5 separate regions of the Homo sapiens genome follow, and all the other regions are linked to region 1. The links come from fine-mapping of genetic effects on gene expression. A gene starts in region 1. Each other region holds a variant in brackets. All regions are shown on one strand. Distances are from middle to middle. Region 1 holds the start of HPGD (15-hydroxyprostaglandin dehydrogenase). Region 2 overlaps LOC105377549 (a long non-coding RNA gene). Region 3 holds the start of LOC105377549 (a long non-coding RNA gene). Region 4 overlaps HPGD (15-hydroxyprostaglandin dehydrogenase). Region 5 overlaps HPGD (15-hydroxyprostaglandin dehydrogenase).

Region 1 (5,632 bases):
TCCCCGGGCCTTTGATCATTCATTCTACTTCTATTATTTTACACTATGGATAAAAATTGTGGTTGTTTTTCTACATGACGGAAATATATTCTCAGGTGTCCAGACCAACATATCAAGTCCTTAAAAAAAGTAGGTCAGCATAAGCTTTATTTTGATTGAAATAAATTCATATAATCATTAACAACCACCAGACATATTGGGGAAGACATGGATTAATCAGTTGCCATATAGATAAATTACTATGCTAGTTGTTTACTAAAAACATTTTCAAGATTTCCTAATATGTACCTTTTACACTCACTGTACGGGAATGGAAGAACAACAAACACAAACTGTTTATTTTTCATGGATTTTTTTTTTTTTGAGTCGGAGCCTCGTTCTGTCCCCCAGGCTGGAGTGCAGTGGCCTGATCTCAGCTCACTGCAAGCTCCACCTCCCGGGTTCACGCCATTCTCCTGCCTCAGCCTCCAGAGTAGCTGGGACTACAGGCGCCCACCACCACGCCCGGCTAATTTTTTGTATTTTTAGTAGAGACGGGGTTTCACCGTGTTAGCCAGGATGATCTCTGTCAGGCCTCTGAGCCCAAGCTAAGCCATTATATCCCCTGTGACCTGCACATATACATCCACATGGCCTGAAGTAACTGAAGAATCACAAAAGTAGTGATACTTAAATGGCCTGTTCCTGCCTTAACTGATGACATTCCACCACAAAAGAAGTGAAAATGGCCGGTCCTTGCCTTAACTGATGACATTACCTTGTGAAATTCCATCTCCTGGCTCATCCTGGCTCAAAAAGCTCCACCACTGAGCACCTTGTGACCCCCACTGCTGCCCACCAGCGGGCAACCCCCCTTTTTCCTTTACCTACCCAAATCTTATAAAATAGCCCCACCCCTATTTCCCTTTGCTGACTCTCTTTTCCGACTCAGCCAGCCTGCACCCAGGTGAAATAAACAGCCTTGTTGCTCACACAAAGCCTGTTTGGTGGTCTCTTCACACAGACGCGAGTGAAAGTCTCGATCTCCTGACCTCGTGATCCGCCCGCCTCGGCCTCCCAAACTGCTGGGATTACAAGCGTGAAGCCACTGCACCCGGCCTTTTTTCATGGAATCTTAAAAATGTTTCTTAAAATCTCAAATTGGGTCCAGAAAATGTCCCCCAGTATTTTTTTTTTCTCCTTCCATTCTGAGTATGTTCTAACTCTTCATAACTCCACAGAAACAACCTTCACCTTTTGGAAAATGAGGGTGTTAAATATGTATGTCTAATTGCCGCTTTAATTTTCTTTCCTCATTCTGTTCTCCACCGTATTCCTTATACTCTGCCCTTACCAATGTATAGTATACCATCTTGTTTTCTGACATCCCATTGAATTCCAGGCTCAAGCAACAGACAGTCTACCTCTTGCTGACATTTATATGCTATGGTACTCTTTGTAACTTACCTAAACTCTCTTGGCTGTGATTTGTTCATTTGGAAAATAAGTTATGTTTAGATTATCTCCAAGAAACTTTTCATCTCATATTTTTATAATTTCCACACTGTCTAAACAATTTTAAAAGTTATAGGCAACATTAAATCCTGAAACTGGAAGAATCAATGTCATGTTTCCTTTAGATGCAAGCAAATGCTCATGTCCAGACAACATGTGGATTTCTCATGACCAACATGCCTTCCCGGGTCACTTATGTGTCTGAGTATTTTTCCTCCTCCACAATCATTTATCCTTAAGGAATGAGTTTATAGCCAAGGTATTAATTTTAAATACTGGGAAAAAAACAATTGTAGTTAAATGTCATTTATGAAACTATATAAATTGAGACAGAAATGGCTTTCAGATTGTTTATACTGTTCCTTATGCCATCAGCATGAATGTTGAGATCTGACCTGGCTCTATCCTTGATCCAAAATATCATGTGCAATCAACATAATTGTCCTCTGGTACAATATGTTCCTCTTGCATTGTGTTTACAAATCTGTTCTGCTCATGCTTGTCATCTGTGTTATAGGTCTTTATTAGCATTTTCAGATTTCAGTTATGTAATTTCCTTTACAATTTCTCTTAACTGTTGGTACACCACTTCCTTCTAACACGTCAGTTCATTTTCATTCTCTTACAGAATATTTTAAAATTTTAAAATAAATGTACATTTGATGTCCCTTTAAGAACAGGAGCACTGGAATAAGATTTGCAAAAGTTTTCAGACCCCTTGATTAAAAAGTGCCTTACAATTTACTCAGTCTCTTTGAATAAAACTTTGTGAAATACAAATATTTTACTTTTCTAGTTTTTCTCCAGAATTTTTGTTTCCTGTAAGTTTATTGGGGCACTCTCAAGTTCTCCAATAGATGTACAAAAAAAAAAAAAACAGCTTTATAATCAAAGCTGTTTATTGTGTATGCCAATATTGTCCCTGATACTTCACAAGTAGATTGGTCTATTTTAAGTGAGTAGCCGGAAACAGGAAAGCATTGAGGAAAGGCTGATAGAGATGTTTCTACTACAATTCTAACATTGTATACTTTATTATGATTACTATTATTATTATTTTAAAGTACTGTCTCATTGGGGAAAAAGCCGGAGAAAACATATGGTCAAAAGCATCTAGCACTTCTGTGATGATGCTCCTTGAACTTGTATTCTGATATGTTTAAACGAAAAACACTGCCACATTTGATTGTCATTGGACTCCAGCTTTCTGGGAGAAGTTGTTTGTCAACAGTACCTTACTTAACCTACTTTAATTTTCCAAGTTTTGTCTGCAATTTCAATCATTTAATAATTACTGCAGCAGCACTGTCTTTGAATACATAAAGGAATTTTGATTACATTAATGCTGCCAAATGACTACAATAAAAGGATTTCTCCAGCAGTCTTGCCTTTCTTTCGGTTTTACAGCTATTGGGCTGTCAGAAGGAAACGTATCAGTCCAAACTGTCTTTTGGAGCTTCAAGGTAGCTGCTCTCGAGGAGGCAGCGGAGGCGGCACCCAGGGCCCCCTGGCCGGGCTGCCTTCAGGTTGTTGCTTGTTGAGAGCACGTTCCCAGTTGACAGATTGATTCCCCTGTCTTACCTCTCAGTTGTTGCTGGTCAGCCACATCGCACTGGATGAACAGAGTCTTCTGAGGTTCAAACTGCTCATCCAGGGCAGCTTTACACTGTACACCTGCTTCAAGATTCCAATCCACCAGCGCTACCTATAGACAAGAGGAGAGGAATCGCGGGCCTGCGCAGCTCACGAAATAGACGGACAAACAATAAACACACAAGAGGCTCCCCTCCTGGACCTGAAATTTGGCAATTAGGTTTGGGTTCCCTCCCAGCCACTTCTGAGGTGTGCTCACAGCCTCAGCTTCAGCAAATTTTGGAAGTGGCAAAGTGGGCACGCCGGGCGCGGCCTCCCTGTCTCCGCCAGTGCACCTCGGGCGGCGGGGCGAGTCTCGGAGTGTGTGGGCAGAGAAATTTCCGCGGCTGGGCGCCGGGCTTACCTTGGCGCCCTTAAGCAGCAGCGCCTCTGCAAAGGCTCTGCCTATGCCCTGAGCCGCGCCGGTCACCAGCGCCACTTTGCCGTTCACGTGCATGGTGCAGCCACTGCTGGGGCGGGCGGTGGGCGAGCTCCGCGTCTCCGCGCGGCCGCGGCTTTTATGCCCCCCTGCGCGCGCGCGCGTGCAGCCCGGCGGGGCGCTCCCCTGCCAGTGGGCGGGGAGGAAACTGTCAAGCCAGCGCCCGCCGGGGAACCCACGACTGTGTCACCTGCCCCCTGAGCGTTCTGGAGCGCCAAGCTTCGCGATCTTTGCCTTCCGGACTCGCAGACCGGCTCAAAGCCTCCCCTCAGCCTCTGGCTCCGTGATTGGCAGGCAGCTGACAGAAGAAAAGTTAAAAGGTTATTTCTGAAGAAGAGTTTCCTTCAGTGCCCTAAAGACCAACTGGATAGAAGGAGAGCGGAGCAGAGGCTTGGAAGCTTGGATCCCTCCTCCTGCACTCCCTCCCGGCCCCGACTCCGGAACAAAACAAGCAAACAATAAAGCAAACTTGTTGCTCTTTTGTCTCAAAGTTTTGTGTGAGTTCCCATCTCGTAATCAGTGGGGTTGAGGGTGACGGGGAGCAGAAGTAACTAATATCATTGTGTTTTCTTAGTTACATTTTGGACAAATTTTTACGGATACTGGAGATGAGAAGTGGACTCTGCTCTGTCCTGAAAACCTGGAATCATAACATTTCATGGCTAGGACTAGAGTGTCCTTGGCGCTGTGTTTCTGGTCAGTGTCAATTGTGTGTCATATTGAGATGCCCCCACAAAAACTGTCATCATCAACAGGCGCTCCAGAGCCGCTGGTAGCCTACCAAATTGTTGGCTCAATGGAATGCTTACTTGTTGAAATACACCAACTTTGGAAGCTCTGAGTCAAGTTTGGGACAGAGGTTCCTTGCTCTCCAGGAACTCCAGGGCTAGCTGTATGCGGACTTGCATAAATAACAAGGGCTATTCCACTGACTTTGTCTCTTTTTCTCAGGTTGTCAGCGGCAGGCTGCAATTTTAATTCTGTAAACGTAAGTGGTTGGCTTTTTTTTTTTTTTTTTTTTTTTAATCTTGAGACAAGATCTCGCTCTGTCTGTTTGGCTAGAATGCAGTGGCATAATCCCAGCTCGCTGCAACCTCAATCTCCAGGGCTCAAGCGACCCTCCCACCTTGGACTCCCAAAGAGTGCTAAGATTACAGGCATGAGCCACTATGCCCAGCTGGCATTTATTTTCTTAAAGAAAAAAAAAATCTAAATACTTGGGGGAAATGGGAGTTGAGCAAAAGACTGACACTAACAGCAGAATGAATCATTTTTATATCTTCTTTACCTTCTTTACTGGGAAAGGTGGCTGGCTCAGCAGGGAAGGAGTGTATGAGGAGACTGTGTAAAATGTGTCTTGTCGCGTTGTTGGTAAGCCGCTAAGCAAATGTCTTTAACATTAATTTGAAATTAGGTCTTGACAAAATCTTGAGAAATTAAAACAGGAAAATAGATATTTGTACTCTAGGATGATAATTAAAATTGTAATATGAAGAGTAAATTGAGGGGTCATATTGAAAGGGAATAATAGTAGAAGACAAAAAGAAAACAAGGAACCAAACAAAACTTCAGCTCCTCTAATGGCATGCACAGAACATAGAAGTTTCTGATGAAGGAACTGGCAAAAAAGACAGAAAAGGAACTGCTGGGGTAAAATGGCAACATGCTGGGAGAACACAGGTTTGCAGCTCTTGTGGGAGAAATACTTTCAAGAAGAAAGAAGTAGTTAATAATGCAAAATACTCAGGTGAGCACCAGGGAATAAAGGATGGAGAAATATTTTGAATTTTTCAGGACAATATTTAGTGTGAGTAAATTTAGAAGGCACAAAAACTGAACAGCTGAAATGATCTGTGAGAAGATAGATATTGTCATGGACTGAAGACCAAGGTTACATGGAAAGAGAAATGGACTGGATAATAGTTGAAAAGATTAGACAGCAAACATGTTTTTCTTTTAAGAAAAGATAAGAAGATTGATTGAGGTCAAAGTGCAATGAGTCAAGGATAGTGACAACTGGAAGAACAGGAAGCAGTTTGGCGGTGGCGGATAGGTGAGGCACAAGGA
Region 2 (6,264 bases), 92 kb after region 1:
TTACCAGTAATAATTATAATTGTTATATTAAATTATTGTATACCACAGAGGAAACAAATGTCCTTGTCAATTGTGTCTTTGACTATGTTTTCTCTAAAACATTTTGTCATCCATAGATGTATTAGTCAAGGTTCTCTAGAGGGACAGAACTAATGGAATATATATATGCATGTATGTTAATACTTAACTAACTTATGGTAAGTCTTAACTCACACCATCACAAGGTCCCACAATAGGCCATCTGCAGGCTAAGGAGCAAGGAGATATTCCTAGGATCAATACTTTGTATCCTTCAATTCAATCAAGTGAGCATTCAGTATTAACCATCACAATGGACAATTGCTTTTTTTTTTTTTTTTTAAGATGGAATTTTGCTCTTGTTGCCGAGGCTGGAGTGCAATGGTGCAATCTTGGCTCACTGCAACCTCCACTTCCTGGGTTCAAGTGATTCTTTTGCCTCAGCCTCCTGAGTAGCTGAGATTATAGGCACTTGCCATCATGCTTGGCTAATTTTTGTATTTATTGTAGAGATGGGGTTTCACCATGTTGGCCAGGCTGGTCTCGAACTCCTGACGTCAGGTGCTCTACCCACCTTGGCCTCCCAAAGGGCTAGGATTACAGGTGTGAGCCACTACACCCAGCCTTTGGTCCTCATTAGAAGCTGGTTTTATAATCACCTATAAAGCCCTAACAGGTTCTCTCGAATGCAGGTTTCTGATAACTATGGAGATTGTGACATCAGAATAGAGGAAAAACTTTCAGGTCTCACAGAGAGCTGAAATGTTCATGAATATCATGCAGAACAGGAATTACCTGCATGAACTGAACTAACAGAAGACTGAACTAATCTTTTTGACTTTTTTCTTAAAATGTTCTTGATCCTTCGTTTTGTTTTTCAGAGCCAAGGAAATTTTTTTGAGCTATTGACATCTTTTAACAAGTTACTATACTCCTATGAACAAAATTTGGAACATATTTGTTTCTCTCTACCTGATTTCTCCAGAATTTGGAAACTACTTGTGAGTATTCTTTATTTATGGCAATATAGTTATTTGCATAAGTGCAAGAAAAATCTGTTTTCAATTGTAACAGGACACAATTATAGAAACTGGTTATTTTACCAAGGTTTTGACTGAAATGGTGTGCTTTCCTTTAAGGAATCAAACTGGACTTATAGAGCAAATAAAAATCCCTTGGGAAAACTGGCCTCATACCTTGTCTACACAGTTCCTGTACAGGGTTCCTGACCAGTGGTAAGTAAAGAATGCCACTTTCTGACAGGCCCAGGAGCCCCAAGTTATCTTGGGGCCTCAGGGCCTGGGATGAGAGGGGCTGTAGTGAAAACCTCTGACATGCCCTGGAGACATTTTCCCCGTTGTCATGGGGATTAACATTTGGCTCCTCACTACTTTAGCGAATTTCTGCAGCTGGCTTGAATTTCTCCTCAGAAAATGGGATTTTCTTTTCTATCGCATTTTCAGGCTGCAAATTTTCTGAACTTTTATGCTCTGTTTCCCTTTTAAAACTGAATGCCTTTAACAGCATCCAAGTCATCTCTTGAATGCTTTGCTGCTTAGAAATTTCTTCCACCAGGTACCCTAAATCATCTCTCTCAAGTTCAAAGTTCCACAAATCTCTAGGGCAGGGGTAAAATGCTGCCAGTACCTTTGCTAAAACATAACAAGAGTCACTTTTGCTCCAGTTCCCAACATTTCCTCATTTCCATCTGAGACCACCTCAGCCTGGTCTTTATTGTCCATATCATTATCAGCATTTTGGGTGAAGCTATTCAACATGTCTCTAGGAAATTCCAAACTTTCCCACATTTTCCTATCTTCTTATGAGCCCTCCAGACTGTTCCAACCCCTGCCTATTACCCCGTTTCAAAGTCAATTCCACATTTTTTGGTATCTTTTCAGCAGTGCCCCACTCTACTGGTACCAGTCCATTACTGTACATTACCAGTCTATTACCAGTCCGTTTTCACACTGCTGATAAAGACATACCCAAGACTGGGCATTTTACAAAAGAAAGAGGTTTAATGGACTCACAGTTCCACATGGCTGGTGAGGCCTTACTATCATGACAGAAGGTGAAAGGCACATCTCACATGGTGGCAGACAGCAGAAGAGAATGAGAGCCAAGAGAAAGGAGTTTCCCCTTATAAAACCATCAGATCTTGTGAGACTTATTCAATACCATGAGAACAGTATGGGAGAAACTGCCCCCATGATTCAAATATCTCCCACTTGGTCCCTTCCACAACACAAGGGAATTATGGGAGCTACAATTCAAGATGAGATCTGGGGGTAGACACAGCCAACCCATATCACCATTCATGAGGGATCCACTCAAACACCTCCCACCAAACCCCACCTCCCACACTGAGGATCACATTACATCATGAGACTTGGAGTGGAAAAAAACATCTAAACCATATTATCAGGTTTAACAAAGAGCAGCAATTCTGGAAAAGTAACTAAATTATGTGGGGAGGCTAATGAAAGATAAGAATTATTTTAACAAAGTCTGTTTGTACAGAATTCTCTTGGCTATGATTCTCTGTCAAATATTTTTTTCTCCTGGTACAGAGAGGGCATTTTTTACATGGCAGTTTTTATCTCCTGTTTTTAGGAAGAAAAGAGAAGATTAGAATGTCCTTTTGCTTCTGCTGTTTATCAAGTGCCTTTATATGAAAAAAATCCTTATATCAAAGAGGTATATTGGGGGTAGGGGAAGCATATTCTTCCACCCTCCATTGGTTTATAAATATCCGTGGCTTACTGAAATCTTAACAATTAGACCATTTCTGTCCTTGTTATATTATTGGGCTCCTAAAGCATTTAGAACATCCTTCTTTTGACAAAGCTTTTTATTTAAGTCTATAATCTTATTGTAGTCTCGAAAGTCTCCTGTATCTGAAGCCCGAATATTCATTCTATTTACCTTCACATTCTTTACTAGGAATCTGAAGCCACCTTAAGGCAAAGGAATGACTTCCATGGAATACAGATGAAGTTGGTAAAAGGAAATACAAAGGAGAAAAAGTACATTTGTTCTGTTCTATGACTATTACTCTGATACACTGGTAATGCTATGATGATGGAAGGAACAAATAAATGTCTCAGGATCTTGATCTTCTGATAA[TAGAG/T]AGGGAAGTTAACAGTTCCTGTATTTACAGGAACTGTAATAGAGAGGGAAGTTCCTGTATTTACAGGAAGAATTTTAGCAGGGTAAACTTCAAAACCAGTAAAGGCTTGCGTGTTGCTACCATAAAAAAGAACAAGAAAGCCAACCACAAAAATTAAACACTAAATTGAGCAAAGAAAGAAAAGGCAATATTACTACTGAAGTATTAGAGAGCACTCACTACTTCCCTATTTTACCTGCATGTATAACCTATGACGTTACTCATTTATTTCTCTGTATGTCATTTGAGAAGTGACTTATGGAGAGAGAATAGATAAAATAGCATTCCTTAATTAAATATGGTAGGATGCAACGTATACATGACTAATTTGGGATAATATTTCTTGTGTGTGTGTGTGTGTGTGTGTGTGTGTGTGTTTGATAGAGTCTCGCACTGTCGCCCAGGCTGGAGTGCAGTGGCACAATCTCAGCTCACTGCAACCTCTGCCTCCCAGGTTCAAGTGATTCTCCTGCCTCAGCCTCCCAAGTAGCTGGGATTACAGGTGCCTGCCACCACGCCCAGCTAATTGTTTTCGTATTTTTAGTAGAGATGGGGTTTCACTATGTTGGCCAGGCTGGCCTCAAACTCCTGACCTTGTGATCTGCCTGCCTCTTCGTGTGTGTGTGTGTGTTTCTTTTTTGTTTTTGAGACAGATTTTCACTCTTCTCACCTTTTTATATAAAGAAAATGCATCTGGAACATTTAGATCAGTTCTTGACCATATTAAACAAATCTTATAGAATTAACACAAACCATGTTATCTAAATCTTGGGATTTTGAGCCTAAAAGCCTGTGCCTTAATTTATAATCAAAGGTCAAAAAGGTCAGATCTATAAAGAGAAGGTACAATGATGAACACTAGGTGATTGCTTTGAAAACTTTCTTGCAAACGTAGCTTACTTGGGGATTTTTGTTAATATATCTAATTCCGTAAGCCTGGGTGAAGCCTTGGATTCTGTATGACTCAGGAGCCCTTGGGACACTGTAGTGCTCTTAGTGGTAGAGCACCCTTTGAGCAGGATACTGAAGAAGAGCTATTTGACTTGAATGGCCTGGCTGGGTTTCCAAATTTTCTGGGGTGTTCTTGGACTTCTATTTTTCTAATTCACTTATGTAGCATCGTGAAAAGTTTTCTGAATATTCTCATTGGAATCACGTTCAACTTCTAGGTAAATTTGAGAGGAAATAGAAATATTTACAACAGTGAATCTTCCTACTTATTAATTATGCCTTTCTCAAGATATATTCACTTTGTTTTATGTCCATCTGTTAGATTCTGTAATTTTCTGAATAGCAGTTTTGTACATCATTTTGCATGTTTTGTTCCTAGGAACTCTATGTTTATTGCTGGTATCACAAATAGAATCTTTTATATTATTATATTCTCTAATAGGTTATTGATGTTGTGCAAAAGCATCATTGACTATATTGATCTCTCTGCAGAGCTCCTGCTAAACTCTAACAGGTTGTCTATACATATTTTTGAATTTGTTTATGTAGACAAATGTTTACATATAACAGTTATGTCTCTTCTTTTTTTACCCTGCTATCCTTAATTTCTTTTACTTTTTTCTTTTATTGGCAAGGAAATTTCAGCGCAATGTTGATTTTTTAATAGTGGTAGTGACCATTGTTTGTTGCCTTCTCTTAATGGATTATGCAGTTGTTTCTAGAACATATAATATTATTTTCCACCTTGAGAAATTTTCTGATGCCCATTTCTCTGCCAGGAATGTTATTTTGTCCATAGTCCTCATAGAACTGTTTCCTTCACATTAATCATACCAAAGATTCCGTGCCAACCGTGAAAAATTGTTGATTCTTTCAGTATAGTGATAAAAGAACCAAACACAAACTAGCTAAAACAATTTAAGGGAAATTTATTAGCCTCAAACTAAAATGTGCAGAAGTAGATTCTTGCTGTCATCACAATTGTATTTGGTATTGATGGCTCCATTTCTTTCTAAATTCTTGAACAAATTCCCTCTAAGTTGCAAATTTGATAGCAGCCCACTTCTTACAAGCTAAGCAACTCTATTAGGATGGGAACTTCTTCCTACTTAAAGTTAAGCTTCCTCCCTGGTTGGCCTTGCTTGGCTATGTGCTCATCCTCAAACTAATCACTGTTGAGGAGAAAGGACTCATAATTCTCTCTCTGTGGTAGGCAGAGTAGGCCCCTTGACCAAGTCTTACCAAAATTTTCTAAGCACTGAGAACAAATAGTTCACGGATCCATGAGATGCAGCTGGATAGAGCAAAGCATACGAAATCCACTAAATTTGCTTAAAGACATCTTTCCTGACAAGCCCATTTTTAAATTCTGTATCTAAGCTCTTATAAACTATTATGTCATGAATCCTGATTTGTAATTTATTAATTTATGCTTCCTGTACTAGAATATAAACTCCATGACAGAAGGGACACTGCTTTCCTTGTTTACTGTTGCATCTCCAGGATAGAGAGTGATGTATGCTGTATGGGAGGAATTAAATAAATAAACTTAACTGAAAATATCAGGAATCCATAACAGGGAAAAATAACATTCCAGTTTGTACTAAGAGACGGTGATATTGAATATGATAACCTTAACTTCCTTTTGAAATGAGTTGACAAGAAAAAGTTGAAAATTGTCTTTTTGCTTCTCTTTTTTAAGAAGTCAGTTGCCAATTAGATCTACTTGCAGCCTGGAAGAGCTATGACTCACCGTGAACTTGAATGAATGAAGTCTTTAGGCTGATTTTTACACATAATGTCAAAGTTCTCTTTTTCTGGTCGTAGCTACACCTTGCCTTTTATAAGTATTAATTATTAATACATTTTCATACATGTTGTTTATTTGGTTTAAATTCTATCTCTGCCATTTGGGAGGCTGAGGTGGGCCCATCACTTGAGGTCAGGAGTTTGAGACCAGCCTTGCCAACATGGTGAAATTGTGACTATACTAAAAATAAAAAAAATAGCTAGGCATGGTGGTGCACGCCTGTAATCCCAGCTACACAGGAGACGGAGGCAGGAGAAGCATTTGAACCCGGGAGGTGGAGGTTACAGTGAGCTGAGATTGTGCCACTACACTC
Region 3 (6,264 bases), 86 kb after region 1:
GAATGTTTACTAAGAATTTGTCAGCATTATATAATACTGACTAAATGATAGCCTCCTTCCTGTATTTGGAGGACACAGATGTTCAAATCACTAAGCAATGTGCTCTTCAAGGTGGATGGGCTACTTAACTCAGGCTGTCAGGTTGCCTAAGTAACCATTACGTAAGAACACTTATCTTCCTGTGCTGATTCAACATACGTTAAACAACTGAGACTAAAAACCTACTAGGATGTGAACACTTGAAGGTTGGGTTTCTCTTATTTACTATTATATTAATGCCAGGACAGTGTCTAGAAACTAGTAGACACACAAAAAATTAGTTCATGAAACAAAGAAGGCTTATATACAGCTGCTATACTTTTTATCTTGTATTCCAATACTTGGCAAATACTAGCAGTTGAATTAATGTTTATTGAATTGAATTCCTAACTTGCATTCCTTGAAATAGTAGGCTAGGAACTATAAAATAAAAATAGACATGTACCAGCTGGGCGCAGTGGCTCACGCCTGTAATCCCAGCACTTTGGGAGGCTGAGGAGGGCGGATCATGAGGTCAAGACATGGAGACCATCCTGGCCAACATGGTGAAACCCCGTCTCTATTAAAAATACAAAAATTAGCCGGGCATGGTGGTGCGCACCTGTAGTCCCAGCTACTCAGGAGGCTGAGGCAGGAGAATTGCTTGAATCCAGGAGGCGGAGGTTGCAGTGAGCCGAGATTGCGCCACTGCACTCCAGCCTGCCAATAGAGCAAGACTCCATCTCAAAAAAAAAAAAAAAAAGAAGACATGTACCATAAAGTGTTAGAAGTCGCTGATAGAAAACTACATGTTTTTTTGTGGGAATCCAAAGATATGACTTTAAATATTCATCTGAACTCACTTATTCTACTGGTGGTTTTCAGTAACTATTGAATTTAATTTTTGATATTAAAGGCATACTTATTGGTATTCCTGAAACTATTTTGATATTTCCCAGCCCACAATTGTATATCTAGTAAAATTAATATTTTAAAATCTGATCTGCTCATATTATTTTAATGTAAAAAGGATTGTTGATTTTGAGCAATCTTTTCCACTCTTGTGGCTTTATAGGCCAGATGGTGTATAAAGCTTGTTATTCTATAAGCTTAGTGTTCTTCAAATATATATCTTTAATTTACACTTCTCTCAAGCTCCAGACTCTTAAGTCCTACAGAAAAATCGACATATTAACTTTCTTTCTTCAGAAAACATATCATATGTGCCCTGTGTGGAATCGGCTATCCTCCTTTAACTTTCTCTTCAGGGCCTAGTGTCTCTGCTCATTCAGAGCTTCAACAGCCAGTTTCCCAAAGCTAGTACTTTTCAGTGACTTTTCAGTGTTTCCATCTTACTCTCCACTGGGCCTACAGTAAAATATATGAATAAAAAGTAATGTGGTACTGAGAAAGTGAGACGGCCCAGGGGTTAGTGCAGGCTTTGCCAGTCACTGCCACTGTAGCCTAGTGCGTGCCCACAGTCTCACTGCTCCCCTCTTTAATTATGCTAAAAGTCAGATGTGCCAGTGGATAATTGCTAGGATTCTGTGAAAGGAAAATAAATCTTGGGGCCCCCAAATCACTAAGCTAAAGGGGAAAGTCAAGCTGGGAACTGCTTAGGGCAAACCTGCCTCCCATTCTATTCAAGTTATCCCTCTGCTCACTGAGATAAATGCATATCTGATTGCCTCCTTTTTAAAGGCTAATCAGAAACTCAAAAGAATTCAGCTGTTTGTCTCTCACCTACCTATGAATGGAAGCCCCTTCTCTGCTTGAGTTGTCCCACCTTTCCAGATGGAACCAATGTACATCTTACATATGTTGATTGATGTCTCATGTCTCCCTAAAATGTATAAAACCAAGCTGTGCCCTGACCACCTTGGGCACAAGTCATCAGGACCTCCTGAGTCTGTGTCATGGGCATGCATCCTCAACCTTGGCAAAATAAACTTTCTAAATTAACTGAGACCTGTCTCAGATATTTGCAGTTCACATTTTGGTAACCACGAAGGGATTCTGAGTGAAGGTGCCCCTGACCTTTGACAAATCTCCTATTGGTGCTTGGTACCAGCTTGAGCTATCTTTGTGGGTCTAACCAATAGGACAATTTGCTGAGGCCTGGAAGTGCTCCCTCCAGAGCATCCCTGATCTTCCAATATTTGGTCAAGATCTAAAGTTTATTGCTGTACAACTCTTTTTTTTTTTTCTTGGAGTTTTACTTGTTTCCAAAACAAGGAAGGCAAGTTTTTCCTGCTTCCATGACAATGGAAGGCAGGTAACTCCTGTATGGAGTTTGAACTCACTTCCAAGAGGAAAGACAAATTTGAGATTTTCCTGCTTCTAGGATGGTAGAGAGCAGTCTTAAGTCTGAGACCTATCCCTGGGTGAGTAACTGAATTGGTGTTTGTCTTGGCTAAAGTTAAGATTTTAGCCAAGACAAACCAGCTGATCTTAATTTCACCTTACCATTAACACACTCCGTAATCTTACAAGTTGCGCCATTGTTTGTTTTGCTTAATTTTTGTTGTTGTTGTTTGCTTGTTTCTGTTTTTGTTGTTATTTCCATATTTTCTCCATTGGGTTTGATCAACTCTGACTTGATCAAATACAAAGGAAAGTTCCAAATTATGAGGAACAAGGCCTCTGAAGTGGCTAAATTCCCATAAGAAAACAATGACAACAACAAGGTGGTGTGGTCGGGGGCGGGGGGAGAAAAACATACAGCAAAAGGAAAACAGAAAGGAGAGATTCTGCTTTTGATTACTCGAGGGGCTTTATTTACATAGCAATACCACCTTTTTGCTAGCCAGGCCAAACTGAAAGAGCAATGGCTGTTGCCCCATGCTGCAGTTCCATAGCTAAGAGTTCTGCCTTCTATTTTTCCACCATGACAGCCTGGGTTTGGTGCCTAAATCAAGCCCTTTCTGTTTGGATACTTGGCACTTC[T/G]GAAACAGCAGCAATTTGTCCGAGCTGAAATATGGTAAATAGATTAAAACATTTTTTTTGAAGGAGCTCAGTGGTTAAAAGTCAGCTTAATTAAAAACTAACATCCAAAATGTGTGTGCGTATGTCTGCATGTGTGTGTTTTTGTATTTAAAAGGCCTTCACCTTTTTTATTTTGTGTGCGTGTGTGTTTTGTTTTTTTTTTTTTCTCTTAGGACTTTGTCTTTTTCATCTCATTTGACTGAATTATGTTTCCTTCATTTACTTCTGCTGTCTCTCCTTTCTCTTGCACCCTGTGCTGCATGAGGGACCTAAAATAGTTTATAATAGCCTGGGGTTCCTTAAGGAAAATGGAGAAGGTGCCAGACTCTCTTTTGGGGAAAAACCACTGTTTTTACTTATGGAACTCCAAGAGTGTTTTCCAAACAGACAAGTTCATCTCAGCTCTTAAACTGCTTGCTTTTGTATTATGTTACCGGATTTTTTGACTAAAATAATTATTGCAATAGAGGTTACTCTTGGGTTTTTAAGGAAGTAAAGTTTAGATACTTGTGTTACCTGATTTTTTGACTAAAATAGTTATTGCAACATAGGCTATACTTGGGTTTTTAAGAAAGTGAAGTTTAAACAAATGTTTTTGTTTAAAAAAATTTTTTTAAAGTGCACTGTAAAAGCATCACGAGGTCTAGCTTCATAATAATTCTCCCTTTTTAGAGATCCAGGATTCAGTGTGGACTCTGCCCAGAGTTCAGAGATCCAGTTAGAAGATAGATAGTCCCTATCTAAATAAAATTGTTCTCCTCATGCAATCCTGTGATAGATTTCTACAATTTTATGTTTGATTTAGCATCTATCTTTAATCTCCCTGTAGCATCACCAGACCTTTTTTCTCTGTACCTTGAGATGTAAATTTTGCTAATCTGATTTTTAATCTAAGAGTTGTTTCCTTCAATATGCAAATTTAGGGCTGTTTACCTGACAACTGCCAGGATAATGAATCAGTTTATCAAGAGTTTGCAAGTCTAAGATACGGAAAAAAAAAGGAGGTCGTAGGAATTCATAAAGTGTATTTTTATCATTATGCCTAACACATCTATGTATTTGTGTGTTCTCTACACAATATTTCACTACTAAAATATATAAAAGAGCTCTTATTAATTGGCTTCAAGAAAAATAAAAGTCCTTAAATCAAATACTTCATCGGAGAAAAAGGAAAGACTAGTCAAATGCTTTTTCAATTTTATGTGACTTAAGTAAAATCTTTAATAAATAAGGTAGCTTAAAATTATTAGTAAAGTAGTATTAGAAATGTCTTAAAAATTATTATCAAGCAATTGCATACTTATCCCTGCCAAATACTATAAGGTGTCAAAATTTGGCATAGGGTTTATAAAACTATAAACACAGCCCAAAATGGAATGATCTTTCTTGTGTAATTTTTAATAGATAAGATATTGATATTGGTTTAATGAAAATAGCTACATCTCAAATTATTTAATAAAATTACCACAACCCATAATCTTCTGGCTTTAGGCAGTCCAGACCACAGGCAATAAGGAGGTTTGTTTGTAAGAGGACTGTTACCATCTTTTTTCAAAGCTAAACTATAAACTAAGTTCCTTCCAAAGTTAGTTCAGCCTATGCCCAAGAATGAACAAGGACAGCTTGGAGGTTAGCAGCAAGATGGAGTCAGTGAGGTCATATCTTTTTTAATGTCTCAGTTATAATTTTGCAATGGGGAGTTTCATAACTTTAAATGATGCCTATCACAGTTTTCATAATCTTGGTAAATGATTAAAATAAAATAATTAGGTAAATGTAATGGGATAAACACTTGTAAACAAACTTGTCATAATTTAGAATCAAAATTTATATTAAATTAAATAATATATATTTCATTATTTGGGTATTTTCCAATAAAAATATATTGTAGGAAAACATTCTGTCTAAAAAACAAACAAACAAACAAAACCCAAAAAAAGTTAATATGATCAAGTTGTCTATAATTAAAGGGATTTATAGTGGTCTTTCTAGAGATTAAATTTGATGATAAAAACACTTATACACAAAAGAATTGATTAGAACAATAAAATTTTCTTAAAGGATTGATTTACTCTTAATGAATTATAAGAGATTTTAATTTGTTTTAAACCCAAAGTTCAACTTGTATTGTTTCTTGATGTTTTCTGTTTTCTCTTCTCTTTTAGAAAGTGCGAAATAGTAATGCTCTTCTTCAACTTATTTTCAGATCATAAAAGTTTTTATTCCTTCAAGTTCTATTCGCTGTGGGCTGATGCTAGCAACGTTTTCTTTCTCTTTTTTTTTTTTTTTTTTGAGACTGTGTCTTGCTCTGTAGCCCAGGCTGGATGGAGTGCAGTGGTGAGATCTAGATTCACTGAAATCTCCACCTCCCAGATTCAAGCAATTCTACTGCCTCAGCCTCCTGAGTAGCAGGGATTACAGGCATTTTCCACCACGCCCAGCTAATTTTTGTATTTTTAGTAGAGACAGGGTTTTGTCATATTGACATGCCTGGTTTCAAACTCTTACCTTAGATGATCTGCCCGCCTCTGTCTCCTAAAGTGCTGGGATTACAGGCATCAGCCACTATGCCTGGCCTAACAATGTTTTGTTAAAGGCCTAAAGGAAACGTTTTCTTTCAACATAATATTCTGTGCACTGCAGGTCTTTTCCTCTGTCTTTTGATAACTGGCCTAATAGATTTTATGTTTAATCAAAGTAATTCCTATGCCATTATTATTAAGTTTTGGTTTGCCTAAAAAAAAAAACAGATGAAATTTTTTTAAAAATTAAAGTTGTTATATCCTTGTATCTTTCTGTATGTGCCTTTAAGGTTCTTGTGACATTGAGCTACAAGGATTTGACTCCTGAGTCTCAAAAGGACACCAAGTACTGCCAAATCTCAAACTCTGACAGCAATTAAAGCCTCATCTGCAGGCCCTGTAGAAGATGCCAATCAAAATAAACTGTGTTCCTGAGACACAGGGGCAGAAATTAAAGCTATTCAACTCCTCAAGGCCAAGGGATTATCATGGAAGAGGTGGGCAGGCGAGAATGTAAAGGCCAATTTTGAGAGATAAAGTAAATTCATTTTCTCTATAAATTAACTATTAACATCAAATGCACACTGATGAAAGACCAGCATATAGGCCCCTGTGTCAGAGTAACAAGGTTTTCTTGAAGCATGAATTAACTCCTTAATAAAAGCTATAAAGGCTATAAAAGGGAAGTTGTATCTTATGGGTCAAGATGAAAATTTTATAGATTGTTTATAAAATATTG
Region 4 (5,632 bases), 22 kb before region 1:
TGGGCCAAAGTTCAGCAATAAATGCAGACCATAACCACTCCCTGGGTGCCTGCCAGGTTTCAATTTATAAAGTATGTTTGCACAAGGGCAGTTTAAATCCCTGAGGATGGTAGATCACACCTAGTGTGTCCACCCAATGATTTCAAAGTATTGTTAATATGTTGCTTCTCTTGTTGTCATTGTTGTTGTTAAGTAAAATGTGTAAGTTAATTAAGTTTGTCAGTGTCAGTCAACAAGAATTTATGATGTTTCCACAGGCTACATAGGTATACTAGGAGTGGAAGATAAAGGGAATAAAAAAGTATAACCAGGAGTTGCTGCTTCTGGTTCTTGTTAGTCCCTGCTTTACCCATTCCTTAAATGTTTATGAGACAAAGGCAGTGGTTTCAGGACAATGTTCATATATAGCAGGAAATGCAGCATGAACCTTAATCAGAGATAAACTAGTTCACACAGCCGCAAGAACTACAAAGACATTGTTCATAAGAGTTGTCAAAGATGAATTTGAAATGAATTTTTGTTACATATGCAGAGATGATGAACTTTGGAACCCCAGCTAGTTCAAGGTGTCATAGAGGCGAAAGAAATATACTGCTTTGTGGGTTCTGGTAATAAGCAAAGACAACATACATACTTTCCTTAAAGGTGGATTCGTAAATGCAACTGGAATGTGAAAGAAATTGCTTGCAGTTTTTAAATGGCAGTTGGTTTTATGAATCTTGTAACATTCTAATCACATTTTCACTGCTATTCTGCAAAATGTTTACCCTTGCATTGCTTTCACTTTCTTTTCTTTCTTTTTCTTTCTTTTTTTTTTTTTTTTTTTTTTTTTTTTGAGACAGAGTCTCGCTCTATCAACAGACTGGAGTGCAGTGGCCTGATCTCTGTTCACTTCAACTTCTGCCTCCTGGATTCAAGGGATTCTCCTGCCTCAGCCTCCCAAGTAGCTGGAACTACAGGTATGCGCCACGGTGCCCAGCTAATTTTTGTATTTTTAGTAGAGATGGGGTTTCACCATGTTGGCCAGGATGGTCTTGATTTCCTGACCTCATGATCCACCTGCCTTGGCCTCCCAAAGTGCTGGGATTACAGGCATGAGCCACCATGGCCGGCCTCACTTTCTCTCTCTCTCTTTCTCTCTCTCTCTCTCTTCCCCCCGCCCCATACCTTCCCTCCCTTCCTTTCTGCCCCCTTCTCTCTCTTTTGAGACAGAGTCTAGCTCTATTGCCCAGGCTGGAGTGCAGTGGCAGGACCATGGCTTACTGAAGCCTTGACCTACTTGGCTCAAGCAATCCTCCCATCTCAGCCTCCTGAGTAGCTGGGACTGCAGGCATTAGCCACCACGCCCAGCTAATTTTTGTATGTTTGGTAGAGATAGGATTTCACCATGTTGCCTAGCTGATCTTGAACTACTGAGCTCAAGCAATGCACCTGCCTTGGCCTCCCAAAGTGCTGGGATTACAGGCCTGAGCCACAGCACTGGCCCCTCACTTTTTAGTATTAGATGAAAACCTACACAAATCAATTTCAGACATTCAGAAACCAAGTTTCCTTTTTTCATTTTTTTTTTACAGCTTCATGGAGATCTAATTGACATACAATAAAACTGCACGTATTGAAAGTATACAGTTTGATAAGTTTTGACATATGTATATACCAATGAAACCATGACCAGTCAAGATAATGAACATGTCCATCACCCTAAAAGTTTCCTTGTGCCCCTTGGTAATCCCTTTCTGCTGCCCCTCTCCTCCCCACAGGCAACCACTGATCTGCTTTGTGTTACTATACTTTGCATTTTCTAAAATTTATATAATGTAATCATATAGTATAAATTATATTGTTGTCTGACTTTTCACTCAGGATAGCTGTTTTGAGATTCATCCATGTTGTAATGTGTAAGGAACATTCTATTTTTTTCAATTGTTTCATTTAGTCAAGTTGTTAATTGAAGTTTTTTTTTCTTTTTTTCCCTAATATAGGTAGATTTTAACTGGTGCTTCTTATGTTTTGAACAGGCAGGGTGGATTTGCAGTGCTTTCTCTCCAACTTGCAAACTGACTCTCAATGTAGAAATTTACTACCTATACTTCAGTTTGTTGCTTTGAAAATGAAGCCTAAATGGAGGGAGAAAAGCTCTTGTTGTTTTATTATTTTTGACAATGATTTTAGTTGGGGGTGGACATTTTTTAGGAATCCAACATTTTCTACTGCATCTGATTCATTTTTCTTCTGTAGGTATAGTATTATTGCTACTGTGGTGTAGCTTCAGGATTGGTTAACCACGCTTCCACTACTTACTGTAGGCCCACAACACCAACATAGAATTTGTTTCCATGTGCTTCAAATAAAAATTGTGTTCTGGGGCTGGTAATAAGGGTCAGCTCATAGAGTTAGACTAAGTGTGCACGGTATGACTCTGGAGACACAATTTACAAGGTAGTTGGTGTAAACTGTGCCGCTTATGTTCCTACCATTTACAACCTGCACAACTATACATGGTAGTCATCTCTTGGAGAGTAGGTGACTGAGCAAAAGGACAGAATAAACCAGCCCAGGTAGGAAGAGAAGCAATTAAGTGTTGTGTAACAGAAATTACGGATGAAAGTATTTTAAGAGACTTAAAATGGTCACTGATATCAACTGCAGAAACAGAATCACTCTGAGATATAAACATATCTCAGTTATTACCCATCTAAAAATAATACTTATTTTTTCTCCAGCTACCACCTTGTTTCTCTTTTCAATGGAAAGTCCTCAGAAGAGTTATTATATGCCTTGCATTGTCTCCACTTTCTTGACCTCCTATTTGCTCTACAACTCATTCCCATCAGGCTTTCATCTGATCACTCCAGTCAAACAGATCTTATGGAGGCTGCCAATGAGCAATGGTTTGCTAAGGCTAAATCTCTGTCTCATTTTCCTTGATCCCTTCCTCAGCAGCAACTAGCACAGCCATGCTTTCCTTGAAACATTTCCTCCTCCAGGCTGGTCTCCTATCTCACATTCACTGGCAGCTTCTTCTTCATGTCTTTGGCTGGCTCCTCTTCCTTGACTAGACCCATAAACATGCTGGAAAACTCCAGAGATATACCTGGTCCTCTTTGCTTTTCTATGAACACTCTTTCCCTACATGATTTTATTCACTCCTGAGGATAAAAATTAATTCTCTCAATTTGTCTCTCTCAATCTTTGTATGACACACACACACACACACACTCAAATTTAAAATACTTATCTCAAGCCAAGACCTCTTACTCTGCCTTGAACTCTAGAGAGGGAGCCTTGGGTTACTTCTTGTAATATTTCCTAGCAGTTTTCTCTCCTTAAACTATAGTGGGTGCTCAGCCTGGGCAACACAGTGAGACTCTGTCTCAAACAACAAAC[G/A]AAAAAGAAAATATGATAAATATCAGATGTTATAGGAAATTTCAAATTAAAACAACAATGAGATTCTACTACACACATTAGAATGGCTAAAATTTAAATGCTGAAGACACCAAATACTGATGAATATGTCAAGAAACAAGAACTCCAATTCATTGCTGGTGCGAATGCAAAATGGCACAGCCACTTTGGAAGACAATTTAGCAATTTCTTTCAAAAGTAAACATGCAATACAATCCAACATTTAGTTCCTTGGCATTTACTCAAAGAACTGAAAACATGCTTGCACAAAAATCTGTGTGTGGATGCTTATAGCAGCTTTATTAATTGCCAAAACTTGGAAGCAACCTAGTGTCCTTTAGTAGTTGAATGAACAAATAAACTGTGGTATATTCAGATAATGGAATAATATTCAACTCTAACAAAGGGCTATCAAGCCATGAAAAGATATGGAGGAAACGTAAATGCATATTACTAAGTGAAAGAAGCCAACCTGAAAAGGCTACATACTGTATGATTCCAACTATATGACATCTGGAAAAGGCAAAACTATGGAGACAGTTGAAAGATCAGTGGTTACCAGGAGGTGGTGGGAGGAAGGGATGAACAGGTGGAGAACAGGGTTTTTAGGGTAGTAAACCACTCTGTTTGATATTATAGTGGTAGATATATGTTATTATACCTTTGTTCAAGCCTACAGATTGTACAACATCAAGAGTAAACCAGATGAAACCTCAAATAATTATTTTATTGACCTATTTATCGGTTCATCCACATTGTACTTTTTAATGAAAATGTATCTTTTGCACTAAAATGCCACAAATCTGGTATAGTGTCCTAACTTGGTTTGATTTCTGAACCTTGGCAAACTGGACTGTTTCTAATCTTAAATCAACAGGCTCTACAGAAGTAAATTCACATAAGAACTATGTGTTTAGTTCCTTTTAAATGCAAAGTATAATGAAGTAATATTTTAAATATACTCAATTGAAGTGTGTAAAACCAATGGGAGGACCCCTGTTGCAGGACGAAGGTGGAATTTTACCGGTTGAAGAGCCAGATACCAGTATAATGACTATAGGACCAGTTACTATAACTAATATGGGTTTTTTTTAATCTTGCAAATTAATTCTCAAAATTAGGGAGCACATGGAAATATTCTGTCACAACATTAAGGGATTTAAGAATAGCAACAACAATAAAACAAAGGATTGTGACCATGTGAGAGCAGTCTCTGCTTTTAAAGAAATGGCATTTTGTTTAACATTGTGAGAAATCCTGTGTGCTTAAAAATAGATACCTTATATTAAAATAGTTAAGAACAGTATTTTTCAGTACCTCTGATAGGCCCACCATTGTGCAAGTTTATTTATAGAAATACACAATGGCTCTTTTTAAAATATACCAAGTATAATTAGTAGCAGATTTATGTCTGTCACAACTGTAAAGTTACAGAAAAAAAAATCAGTAGAGGGAGAAATTCTACCCACAAAACAAAGAAATATTTTCTAAAACCACTCAGGATAATAACACTAAACAATTAGACTGACGAAATAATATATATAGCACTTAAAATACCTGAAAGCATTTAAAATATCTGAAAATTACATGTGTACTAATAGAACAAAGAAAGTCATTCAGAAAAAAAAATGTAAATTCCATCTCTACATTAGTTCTTCTATTCTTCATAATCTTTCTACCCATATTTACAAAAGCCAGTTTTAATCATTTCACAGAAGGTAAAAAAGCTCAAAAAGATTTTTTTGCAAAAACAGAAACCTCCTCAGACAGGGCAGTCATACTAAATCCGCAAACAAGATTTGCTTTTAAGGAGAGAGAAACCATGTAGAATGGACTATATAAAAATGCTGAAAATTCAACTTAGGGAAATAAATGGTGAATCTAAGGATGCTGATACTCGTATGATAACCTGGAGTTCTGTAACTACGCTAAAAAAGCAGGAATCTAAAGCTGTCACATTTTCTTTACAACCAACAACAACAAAAAAATGTGTACCCGTCTGTCTGTTTTAACCACCACTTCTCCAACTTGAAGAAAAAAGGGAGAACTAGCAAGAAATATTTATCTACGATTCGTGCATACACCTGACCAAAGTAACTGGTGAACTTCCTCATTTGTGATTTTCCGCATAATGGAACACCTTATCTGATGGCTGTTTTTTTTCTCATTCTTATGGGTGCCATTAAGTTATGCTTTAGAGTGTGACACGACATTAAAAAGTGACACA
Region 5 (6,264 bases), 31 kb before region 1:
TATTTGTTGAATGAGTGAATGTTATGTGTGGAAATATTACTTGAAAACTGTGGGGAAAAGAGTTTCATAGTTCAAAGATAACCTTAGAAATCTTGTAAAATTTAATGTAATTGTCAGGCCTCTGAGCCCAGGCCAGGCCATCGCATCCCCTGTGACTTGCACGTATACATCCAGATGGCCTGAAGTAACTGAAGATCCACAAAAGAAGTAAAACCAGCCTTAACTGATGACATTCCACCATTGTGATTTGTTCCTGCCCCACCCTAACTGATCAATGTACTTCGTAATCTCCCCCACCCTTAAGAAGGTTCTTTGTAATTCTCCCCACCCTTGAGAATGTACTTTGTGAGATCCACCCCTGCCCACCAGAGAACAACCCCCTTTGACTGTAATTTTCCATTACCTTCCCAAATCCTATAAAACGGCCCCACCCCTATCTCCCTTCGCTGACTCTCTTTTCGGATTCAGCCCACCTGCACCGAGGTGAAATAAACAGCCATGTTGCTCACACAAAGCCTGTTTGGTGGTCTCTTCACACGGACGCGCATGAAAGTAATTATATGCTGACAATGAGATTTTAGTAAGAAGAATTAGAAATGGTACTAATACCAAGGCAGGAGGATTTTTAAAAATACACAAAAACTAGCCAGGCATGGTGGCGCATGCCTGTGATCCTAGCTACTTGGGAGGCTGCGGCCAGAGGATCACTTGAGCTCAGGAAGTTGAGACTGCAGTGAGCCGCATCATGCCACTGCACTCCAGCCTGAGTGACAAAGTGAGACTTTGTCTCAGAAAAAAAGAAGGAAAGAAGGAAGGAAGGGAGGGAGGGAGGGAGGGAGGGAGGGAAGGAAGGAAGGGAAGGAAGGAATGAAGGGAAATGAAAGACAGAAATGAAAGAGAGAAAGGAAAGAAAGAAAAGAAAAGGAAAGAAAGGAGGAAAGAAAGAAAAGAAAAGGAAAGAAAGAAGGAAGGGAGGCTAATAAGCTTGAATGTAATGGTAGAATTAAGGTGGTCATATATTCAGAATCTCAAAAACAAAGCAAGTCTAGAGGCAATGATTGCAGTTTTGCAGTCAATATTAAATCAAGTAGCTTTTGAACCTTTTTCACTGTGTTTCACAATGAGAAATATATTTTATATCAAGAATGAGTACAATCATATATGCATGAGATGCCTCCTGTATTTTCCATTCATTGTCTCCTCTTTTATCATATCCTATCCAGAGTGATTCAGTTTTTCACACACTTTGAAAACATGGATCTAGGCATGTTATAGGAACCAAGATAGTATGCAAACTTATCCAAAGGATTAAGACATAACTCATCTTTTATCACTCTGTCTTTCTCTACATACAGTGGCTATTGTTTCTGTCACCTCAGCATGCATTCACCTACTTTCTGGTAATGACAGCATAATTTTCCTTTTGGAAATTTTCCTTCTCCTTGTTTTAGTCCATAGGACTCATGTCAATGCCCTGCCCACCTCTCCTGTCTCCCTCCCACCCCATAATTCTGCCAGCTCTGGGGAGGCATGCCATCTCCTTCTGGGCAGGCAGAGTAGCTATCTCTCTGACCACAAGGACTGTCTCAGTAGTGGGCATATAACCTAGGCAAGGCCAAATCAGTTCTTGTTTTGGTGGACTGCAAGCTGCTGGGAATCAGGCCTGTAGATCCGGGAAGTGATCATGTGAAAGAGCTGCCTAGAAGGGACGCTAACAAGAGAAAAGGAGATGGAGACCTTATGGCAGCAACTGTGACCCTGGATCCAATCACCTTTTCCTATGCACCAGTAAATTTCCCTTTTGAAATTCTAATTTAAGAAAAACCATCTGATGATGTTTAGTATGTGAAATACCTTGAATTTTTTTCAAAATTTGCATTCTCAGATCTCTTCAGTATGCTAAATTTATAGAGAGCAAAAGTAAGGAGAAATTGTCATATAATCACTTGAATGTTAAATGATATTACAAGTGTCTAAATTCATTTTTACATGAGAAAATAAAATTTGTAGGACATTTCAATGCATTATCAAGTCTTGATCTTTTTCTCAATGTCTACGTATTTCTAGTGTTGCTGTTCTGAGAAGTACCAACTTCATTTTACTAAGAAAAACACATTGGAAAAATATATATACCATTTACATTAGGATATTCACTGAAAAATACAAGAAACCAAGGTCCCCCTCCCCTAACTTCAGTTTAATTATTTTCTCAATCAGTATACACCAGAGATGCCATATAACCATATGAATTTATTTAGAGCTACCTATAGAAGGTAAGATTTAAAGTAAGTTTTTAACTTATGTAACTCACATTTTTCAATTCTACTTGATATTTGATTTTAAATGTCTACATAATTTATTGATTTGAAAAAATTAATTCAAAGCAGAATGTATATTGAAGGCTACTAGTCCAAAAAATTGTCCATAAATGAAAAGGTTATACTATTTACACGACAGAGGAAAAATACAGAAGATAAGTGATACTGGGCAAACCGACATCATTTACTGATTAGTCACTGCCAGAACATACAAACAAGCTTATGCCTGATTACAGTTTATCTCTATCAGATGTTCATTGATGTTCACTACTTTGTCTTTAATACATTATATGAAAATCTAGACCAGAGTTATTAATATTCAAATTACTCCTTAAAAGTGAAGGCAATTGTTTTCTATAGCAGAATTAAAATAGGGCAAGATATGACAACATTCCAGTACTTCTAGGAAATCCATATCAATCTCACATGGAAAGATTTGGCTTCAAGCTGGGAGGTCTGGAGTTAGCAGACAGGATGAGTCACTT[A/G]TACGATATTTTTTTGAGAAAACGACTGATTTGGAAATCTTGTGCTTTCACTGTTACTAGTGTTAATTACTGCTTGCAAAGAGTTTTACCCAAAGCAGGTGTATTTAATGATTCTTAAGATAGCTGACAACAAAAAAAGCAAAACCTCACAGCTATTTTTATGTCTGTGTTGTTATGAGTTTCAGCATGGGTACAAAAACATTTACAGTTGTGGCTGTGGCAAAATTGGTTTTATTTCCTTGATAGCTATACATAGAAGACTAAGTAATTTATGGAGATCAGAATAAAAAAGTTTTATTGAAGGGTAGGCACTTTTGAAATTTGGACAAGTCAATAAAGAAGTAATTTGAAAAAAATATTACATTTGCATTTTTTTCTTGTTGAGCATCTTAAATATAATATTTTTGGAGTACTAACTATTCTTTATTGCTGTAACTGTTAAAAGTTTAATTCCTGAGATTTTTGGAGTCGGTAAAAGTTCTTAAAGTGAGCAGAGGAAAGAAATGTCTTTCCCAGATAGGAGGCTGAACTGTGAATCAACAGTGTCAATCAGTTACTTTCTGTCATTTTTCCATACAGCAGTTTTCATCTGGGATATGTTTACACTGTAGTTTATTCCTTGACTGCCCCCAAAATATACTACTCTAAGAAGCTCTTGGAAGAACTGAAATGTTCAGTTGAAAGATGGTATATAAGTAAAAATTATTATTGTGAAATATTTGTCATTGTTAAGTAGCTTTCCTCTTTTAAAGTATGAACTTGTATGTGAGTGTTTTACATCTGGTTTGATTTAAATAACAATTCAAGTATCTCCTTTAAAATGATGTTCTGAAGAACATTAATATTTATGAAGCACAGATATAAATACACTTTCTGAAAGGCAGAATATTGAATATTCCTTGAAAATCATTTGTTTTGATCATTTTTTAGACTATCAAGATTACAACCTAGCCTTTGGTCCACATCACATTTTTAATAGTTCATAACTTTTTATCCATATACTTAACTAAAAATTTAGAAAACGTTTATCACCAAGTGCATGAAGGAAAACTTCAAACTGTAACATTTCATTTAAAAGCTATATTCAAATGAAGATAGGATCTGAATATAAGCTATTTGTGCTTATTTTCAGCTATGGCTAACACATAAGCTGTTCATTGGGTTTTTGCTTGAAATGGAGTTGTATCATAGTCTTGAAAATGAATTCCCTTAGAAGTTGTGATCTTCATAATAGCACCATTTAAAGCATCATCTTCAATGAGTGTTATCAATCCATTGGCAATCAATGGTGGGCTAAAAATAAAGAAAACAGTATTTTGAAACGAAAGAATGAGGCATATTACCACTTCATTTTAAGTTATTTTCTGAAGAATCTATTAAGTTGAACATGTTATAGGGAAATGTGTGTCATTAAACTATTGCTACTTCCAATTTTTATTTAATTCCATATTAGATATCTAGATTAGATATCTTATTTATCTAATTTATTCAATTAGATTTCTTTCAATTGGATATTAACTAAATTATTTGATAAATTTAGCTGTAACCTTCCATCATTTTGGCAGGAGGAATTTATACTCATTATTTTCACTGAGCAAATGATCATTTTCTCATCTTTATCGTATCAGTAGATCTTAGACTTACCAGATATAGATGTTATTAGTGTAGAAATATGATTGGTAACAGCTAGCATTTACTGAAAATTTTATTTTTTACCAGTTACCATTTTAAGTACCTTGTATGTATCATTTTATTTAAGTTTTTCAAAGTCCCTAAGTCTGTTGTATTATCTCTATTTTATATGTGAGAAAATTGAAGCATCTAGAGGTATGATGGGTAAGTTCATGGTTAGTGGTAGAGCCAAGATTTGATCTCAGGTCTGATTCCTTCAACATGATAACTATGATTCATGAAATCCTCAGTTGCTTGAATTCAGACATAATTCACTGAGAAAGTATGTGTCCATGTATGTGTGTGTATCAACTATTTCTTATAAAAGTGGTTGAAGTCATGGAAACTTGCAATATTTCACAGACTATATTTGAATATTGCTTGGAATTTAGGCAGAGAAGGTATCATTGCCTTCAAAGGTGACTAAATATCAACTTTATGACTGATGGTAGTAATGAAGCATTTTACATATTTCAAAGTAACATTCATAATGTATAAACTTACATTCTATTTATAAACCCAGAAAAATATATTTTCTCCCAGAGAGTTTGCCAAACCAAAAGTTTGAAGCTTGTGTTCATTTCTCAACTGTATAAGCTTATTTCTTCCCTTTTTATAGCTTATCTAAATAATGCTTTGCTTCATCATTTAAAAGAAAATAGACATAGTTTTACTTACTCCAAAATTCCATAGTATTTAATCATATCCTTGATATGATCCTTATATTCTATATATTGTCCCATGTTTTCTTCTTTTTCAATTGATTCAAGGATGGCTGTGTTAACAAAGCCTGGACAAATGGCATTCAGTCTCACACCACTGTTCATAAGATTAGCAGCCAACTGCCAATTAGAAGGTTGTAGGTTTCAGCAGTTTCATAAACATATAGCACAGGACAAACTGATCATTAAAGCATCTTACAATTTTCTGATGTAAAAAATACTAATTAGATATCCTCCCAGCTATGTAACAATGACTGGTAAATAGATAGTAAAATAACACATACATAAAGTATTGTATTAATTCCTGAAAATCTCACCTAATTAATTTTTTTTAAAAATCAGTATTACTGGACAACTCCTGGAAACAATTATGTAAGCTTCTCTTATCTACTGAACTCTGCAGGAGCCTGAAGCTAAGTAGCTGAGACTTAGAATCGATATCCCAAGTGTTATTTCAAATATGGTGGTTGTATAACAAATAATACTTAATTAAAAAGACTTTTAGTGAAAATGTTTAGAACTTTGATTCTAAAGACACTCTTAATAATCTGTCCTATCTGGAAGACAATTTAAGTATTTTCAGACTAACATTATTTGGCTTAATTTACAAACTATTGATTTTATTTGCAATTATTAAAAAATTAGTCAATTCTCATTATTCATGGATTACATATAAACAAATTTGTTAAATTTGCTTGCTAAAATTTACTTGTAACCCTGGAAATCAATACTTGTGGAGCATTTGTAGTTATTTGTGGACATGCACAGGGCAGTGAGAAATTTGAGTCACCGATGTGCATGTTCCTGCTGAGGTCAAGTAAGACTATACTCTGTCGTGCCATGTTTTTCTAATTTTGTGCTTTTTTATTGGTGATTCTGCTGTTTAAAATGGCTGCCAAACCCACTGCAGAAGTGCTGTGTAGTGTTCCTTAGTGTAAGAAGACTGATGTCCTGTACAGAAAATATTTGTGTTAGATAAATTTTGATCAGGCATGAGTAATAAGTGCTTTAGTAATGAGTTCAATGTTCATACAACCTATGATAAATAAGGTTCTTTAAACAGGAATA

Evidence for each region. PIP is the estimated chance that this variant, and not a neighbour inherited with it, causes the effect. A credible set is the group of variants that fine-mapping cannot tell apart.
Region 2: its variant is the best candidate, but not a certain one, in a credible set for the expression of HPGD in whole blood (TOPMed, PIP 0.56).
Region 3: its variant is the best candidate, but not a certain one, in a credible set for the expression of HPGD in whole blood (TOPMed, PIP 0.56).
Region 4: its variant is the best candidate, but not a certain one, in a credible set for the expression of HPGD in transverse colon (CEDAR, PIP 0.73).
Region 5: its variant is the best candidate, but not a certain one, in a credible set for the expression of HPGD in whole blood (TOPMed, PIP 0.65).

Annotation. Positions count from the first base shown.
Region 1 is chr4:174,518,869-174,524,500 of GRCh38, forward strand. It overlaps HPGD (15-hydroxyprostaglandin dehydrogenase), which reads right to left and starts at 3,620. Exons shown (of 7, transcript NM_000860.6): 1 at 3,491-3,620; 2 at 3,076-3,199. The coding sequence starts at 3,583. LOC105377548 (a long non-coding RNA gene) reads left to right here and starts at 3,745. Exons shown (of 7, transcript XR_007058492.1): 1 at 3,745-4,261; 2 at 4,517-4,553. RefSeq lists an enhancer at 430-959.
Region 2 is chr4:174,610,992-174,617,255 of GRCh38, forward strand. It overlaps LOC105377549 (a long non-coding RNA gene), which reads left to right. Exons shown (of 4, transcript XR_939492.3): 2 at 900-1,019; 3 at 1,158-1,253; 4 at 2,965-3,506. Among named protein-coding and RNA genes, the nearest start is that of HPGD, 92 kb to the left of the region's middle. RefSeq lists a silencer at 2,833-3,033. The variant TAGAG/T (reference allele first, on the strand shown) is at 3,148.
Region 3 is chr4:174,604,282-174,610,545 of GRCh38, forward strand. LOC105377549 (a long non-coding RNA gene) reads left to right here and starts at 5,816. Exons shown (of 4, transcript XR_939492.3): 1 at 5,816-6,022. The variant T/G (reference allele first, on the strand shown) is at 2,965.
Region 4 is chr4:174,496,762-174,502,393 of GRCh38, forward strand. All of the region lies in intron 4 of HPGD (15-hydroxyprostaglandin dehydrogenase), which reads right to left. Among named protein-coding and RNA genes, the nearest start is that of HPGD, 23 kb to the right of the region's middle. The variant G/A (reference allele first, on the strand shown) is at 3,388.
Region 5 is chr4:174,487,999-174,494,262 of GRCh38, forward strand. It overlaps HPGD (15-hydroxyprostaglandin dehydrogenase), which reads right to left. Exons shown (of 7, transcript NM_000860.6): 6 at 5,153-5,316; 7 at 2,177-4,096. The coding sequence ends at 3,958. Among named protein-coding and RNA genes, the nearest start is that of HPGD, 31 kb to the right of the region's middle. The variant A/G (reference allele first, on the strand shown) is at 2,804.